Linked DNA regions of Homo sapiens: region 2 is linked to region 1. Evidence: fine-mapped expression QTL. A gene starts in region 1. The other region holds a variant in brackets. All regions are shown on one strand. Distances are from middle to middle. Region 1 holds the start of TMEM156 (transmembrane protein 156). Region 2 has its middle 81 kb from the start of TMEM156.

The links. PIP is the estimated chance that this variant, and not a neighbour inherited with it, causes the effect.
Region 2: its variant is the best candidate, but not a certain one, in a credible set for the expression of TMEM156 in whole blood (TOPMed, PIP 0.60).

Annotation. Positions count from the first base shown.
Region 1 is chr4:39,030,748-39,033,675 of GRCh38, reverse strand. It overlaps TMEM156 (transmembrane protein 156), which reads left to right and starts at 1,267. Exons shown (of 7, transcript NM_024943.3): 1 at 1,267-1,450. The coding sequence starts at 1,363.
Region 2 is chr4:38,950,356-38,953,283 of GRCh38, reverse strand. No RefSeq gene overlaps it. Among named protein-coding and RNA genes, the nearest start is that of TMEM156, 81 kb to the left of the region's middle. The variant T/C (reference allele first, on the strand shown) is at 1,564.

The sequences.
Region 1 (2,928 bases):
AATACAAAACATTAGCTGGGCGTGGTGGTGCATGCCTGTAGTCTCAGCTACTCAGGAGGCTGAGGCAGGAGGATCACTTGGATCTGGGAGGCAGAGGTTGCAGTGAGCCAAGATTGCACCACTGCACTCCAGCCTGGAGACAGATTGAGACTCCGTTTCAAAAAACAAAAAACAAAAACAAAAGAATAAATGATTAAATTGATAAACTATACATTATTTCGTGTAATATTAGAAATACAATGAAGAACTGTGTTTCTCTGCATAAAACTTTTAGGTACGTGTTTTATACTCTGTTACAAAATAGTTGGGTGGAAAAACTCCCACCATATACAAAATGAAAAGGCAAATGACAACCTGGGAAAAATGTTTGCAAAACATATGCAAAGATTTCATATTCCCAATAGAGAAAAAAGTCTTATAGATCAACAGGAAGGATATAAATGCTGCAATAAAAGACATGAACATGCAATTAACAAAAGAAATTCAAATTGCCAGCAAATATTAAAAATCTTTAGAATTACTGTCAACCAAACAAATGCAAATTAAACAATACTTTTTTTTCCTTTTAAATTGGCAATGGTTAAAATGTTTCTATCTTCTAGATGTACTATTTTCTGAACACCAGAATTCAGCACAGCACCTGGCACCAAACAGGATCGACAATCATTTAATAAGTAAATGAATGAGTCATGTGCATGCAACCTAGACATGACTGACATTCACCCTTTTATTTCTTTCTCTCTTGAGAAGGGATCTCACTCTGTCACCCAGGCTGGAGTGCAGTGGCCTGTCATGGCTCACTGCAGTCTCAAATTTCTGGGTTCAAGTGATCCTCAGCTTCCTGAGTAGCTGGGACTACAGGAGTGCACCACCACACCTAGCTATATTAAAATTATTTTTGTAGAGAGGAGGGCTTGCTCTATTGACCAGTCTGGACTCAAACTCCTGAACTCAAGTGATCCTTCTGCCTTGGCCTCCCAAAGTGCTGGGATTACAGATGTGAGCCACTTCGCCCAGCCCACCGTTTTATTTTTGTGAGTATACTGTGGGTTTATATTTATAAATTGGGTGGGGAGAAGATCCCCTTGCTTCTTGAGATCATTTATTTACCTTTCTTGCTTAGAAAGACAAATAAATGGTCTGAAAGTGCTTATTTGGGGGGTAGTTTTTTTTTTTAATGGGAAGTGACTCAAAAGTGAAGTCTCAGTTCAAGACCTTTTTTTTTTTTTAAGTCTTACTCAAAAGGAAGTGAGTATGAGGTGAACTGCATTAACCTAAAGTGCTGCAGAGATAAACTTAAAGCAGGAAGCAACATACCATGAATGTACTGCAAGGGAACACATTTGTGTCATGTGAAGAGACATGACAAAAACAGCCCTCCTTAAATTATTTGTGGCAATAGTGATCACATTCATTTTAATTTTGCCGGAATATTTCAAGACACCGAAAGGTGAGTATATAATTGTAATCTAGCTTTCCTTTCTTAATTTAAAAAAATTAGTGTCAGCTAGTGGTTACAGAAAAGATCCTCTTTTTGGACACATGCTGCATAGGCTGAAGTTCTAGATCTGAAAAACTAATAAAACAAGATTGCAATTTTAGTTGACTGTTATATAGTACAGTAACCTAATTCATAGTACTTAATTATCATAGCATACCTAAAAATGAAAATATTTAAAATCTGTAGTCTAGATTTCAGACATTGAGATTACAATAATTGCATCATGATTTTGCTCTTTGAAACACTTTCTTCAAAGCAGTTTTTTTTTATTTTTTTATTTTTTATTTTTTTTTTTTGAGATGGAGTCTCTGTCGCTCAGGCTGGAGTGCAATGGCCTAATCTTGGCTCACTGCAACCTCTGCCTGCCGGATTCAAGCAATTCTCCTGCCTCAGCCTCCGAGTAGCTGGGATTACAGGCGCCCACCACCATGCCTGGCTAATTTTTGTATTTTTAGTAGAGACACGGTTTCACCATGTTGGCCAAACTGGTCTTGAACTCCTGACCTTGTGATCCACCCACCTCGGCCTCCCAAAATGCTGAGATTACAGGCTTGTGCCACTGTGCCTGGCCCAAAGCAGCTTTAAGTATGCTTTTTACATTTTGGAATTCTTTAATGAAGAAAGTGATATTTATTGTGTTAAAAATGCTAGAATTCCCTTTACTACAACTATTTCACACAGATAACTTACCGTCACCTTTTGACAAGAAAAAGCGTTTATATATTTTGAAAATACAATCAAAATAAGGTGAGTGGAAATTTAAACAGATGTATGTGTATGTATTTGTAACTGGAGAAAAATGGAACAAAATTAACTTTGTGAACGTTTCAGAAAATTGTGATATAATTGCTGAAACCTAGATTAGGAAAATAAATAGGTATAAATTTAAACTATTTTGATGTTAGCAAAGGACTTGAAAATTTATTAATGTGAGGTTCAAATGGTAATTGTGCTCCCTAGCATTTAATAAGAAGAAAAGGTGAAAAGAAAAGGCTGTATTCTATCATTAAATAGTCTTTATATGAATTTGATTAAAATCAGAGAAAAACTCATATTTGATTATTTGCTGCAATGAATATTTATTGTTGCATATATGTAATGCTAAATAGCCAGATAAAAATATTTTTGCTAATTATATTTGATGACATATTTCAGTGATTATTTGATGTTGCATTTACATGATGCTAAGTAGCGAGTTAAAAATATTTTTGCTAAATAAACACTATGACTACAATTTGGTTTTCTGGCATTATGTTACTTAGATGAAGCAATCATAGCACATATTTTCAGTGCTTGATTCCACTGGGTGAAAATGTGTTATAAAGAGAATAGTTAGAATAAAGATAATCTATTTTTAAGATATTGTGGGCTGAGAGTAAGCTCATTTAATAGTTATCCGGAGTAGGTTCTATCTATATATCTATCTA
Region 2 (2,928 bases), 80 kb after region 1:
AAATGAATAAAAAGTATGAGTTCATGAAAATCAGTAGATGTTCTCTTTTACTTTATCTCATGACTTATTTCCATTTTAGCTCTGGCATGGAAAAAAAGGCAACATTTGGATGCAATACACAAAGATCTTTAAAAATCTGTGAGCCTTTTTTTTTTAATTTTAGAAATAGGGTTTCCCTCTGTTCCCCAGGCTGGAATTCAGTGGTACGATCATAGCTTACTGCAGCCTCGAACTGCTGGGCTCCAGCGATCCTCTCGTCTCAGCCTCCCACAGTATTGGGGCTATAGGCGTGAGCCACTGTGCCTAGCTGCTTTTCATTTCTAAAGCCTACTAATTTCAGACCATTTCATATGTGTTATTCCTATTTGGTATTGATGCCCTAGTAGTGGCCGATCAACTGCTTCCTTTGCAGCAAACTCAGATGGAGATGACCAGCAAGTGACAGACCTGTTCAGCAAGCAAACATATTATTTTGCACATGACTTCCCTTGAATAAATGTGAGCCTCCACTCTGCAATCCTTGCCGGAGACCAAGTGGTTTTAAAATAGAGACAGATGTGTGATACCACGCATTGGCTTGTAACACCCGTATCTTATACAAATGGCCACACTGTAGTCCCAGGGTCTGCAGAACAGACCAAGACTCCTTAGTAATCGATCACATCACTATCAAGGCAGCAAACAGGGAAGGGTGGAAACATGCCTTCCGCTGTCATTGATGGAAAATTGTACCTTGACAGGGAAAGGTAGTTCGGAGCCTTCTTGAATCATTGAGGAACTGCTTAAAATGCACATTTGTGGTCTAAAATGTCCAAAATATCTTAACACCTCACAACAGGCACCGAATGGTTTGGGCAATATCAGGTAAATTATGAATCCATTTTGTAGTTTGGGAAGGTCATTAGGACACAGATTCATTATCTGCTGAGACTTTTTTGTTGCTTTCCATTTATTACTCTCCTTTGAGTGAAATGGAGCTGTGAGAGCAGAGCAGAGACCTCAGTTCACTCAGCCCTGACACATTACTGGTGTCTATAATTTCACCATAAATTTGGAGAGGGAGAGACAGAAATTGCAAATGCAGGGATTTAAATCCCCTTGTGCTGCATTTGTTAAGCTGAGCAGATTGTAAACTGCCTCTTGCAAATACGATATGCATCTGGGCATCAAGCTAATAATTCTGAACCACAGAATCATTCATTTGTGTGATGCTTCCCTCCAGAAGTTTCTGAAATTGCTTCTGTAGTCATTATGTATCCCAGAGCTGTTCAGTTTTAGTCTGAGGATTAGAGAGACGATCTGGCTAAGGAAGTGAGAGGCCTTTTTCAATGAGATGGAAATGACAAATTTTTCTGTGTACATCATCACAATCTTTACAAATTATGCATTTGAAGTACTTGGTTTGGGCTTTTCTGAGGAAAGCAAGGAGAGATGTGTAGAGTCATCAACTTTGTGTTAGAAACTTACAGGCACATCGATGACAAATAAATTCAAATCATTTAGACACTCTCATGGACACTTCTGGCTCTTCTAGTGAAAAACAATCTGTGTGTTTTTACACTT[T/C]CTGTCTCTGGCAGGGCCCTATCCTCTTACCTCCCTGATCAGAAGCAATTTCTTTTGCTTCCTGTTTTGATTTCTAAAAATTTAGTTACATAAGTATTCCATTAATATATTTCATTATACAAACATAATTATTGCAAATAACATTGCAGTCCCTTTTGATTATTGTGAAATTCTGATGTTTTCCCCCACCTATGGCACCCCCTTTCACTTCTGGTTATAAGCAATGTTAACAGTTTCATGTGTATCCTTCCGGATCTTCTAGGGGTGTGTGTGTGTGTGTGTGTGTGTGTGTACAAAGATGTTATTGTAGACAAATATCATACTACAGCTTCTTTTTTTTTTCACTCAATTACACATCTTGGAGCTGTCACTACAGGGATCTATTCCATTCTTTTCATTTGTTTTTACTGTTGCATAATATTCCAGAGTATTTGTGCACCACCATTAACTTCTTCAGGGCTTCTGAATTTTCACTGCAGTCTACCTTACCCTGAAGAATCTTGAAAGACCCCTCAAACAGCAAATTCTTCAAAGTAAAAAAAGAGTACATCGTATTAATTTTACTGGGAAAAAGCTTACTCATTTCTAAGCTCCCCAATCATAATCATTAATGCTATACCACCAAATACCATTAAAATGAGCACCATTACTTCACAGTTAACATTTCCTAATGTAACTCAACCAGATATTTTCCCACAAATTACCCTATAGTACAGCTATTTCCGTTCTCTCATTCAGCGTTTACAGATTATACACAGAAGACTTTGACCTATTTGTTAATTCAACAAATCATTATTGAGCACCGACTATTTGCCAAGCACTGCTGTGGGTGTTAGGAATATGGTAACAAACAGAACACAGAAAAATCCCTCCTTTCCTGGAATCTACATCCTCGTGCAAGGCAGATAACAGAAAAATCGGTAGGATATAAAGGATGTTAGACAGTGGTATGTCCTGAAGAGAAAAAAATACGAAGGTGGGAAAGGTGGTTTATTTAGAAGGTGGTTTTTGAATAAACACCTTCAAGAAGCGAGGGAGGAAGCCGCGCGGATGTCTGGGGGAGAAGCCTTCCTGATCAAGATACCCTGTGGGAACAAATGATTTTTTCTGACAGAGAAATGGCCGGGGTCTTTCTGTCCTGCAGTTCATCATTTGGGTTCTTGTCCTTTATCACTTCCTACCAGTGGAATTTTTTTCCCAAGGAGAGTTGACTAGAGCTCTCCTGCAGAAATGTCGAAAGGCGATCATATTTTTCAATGAGAAATGAATCACTCAACATACAAGGTTTATAACATGAGGGAGACCAGGGCACATAGGGCACTCATTTTCTCCTGGGATCAGGGGTGCTGGCAGGAGAAATGTGGT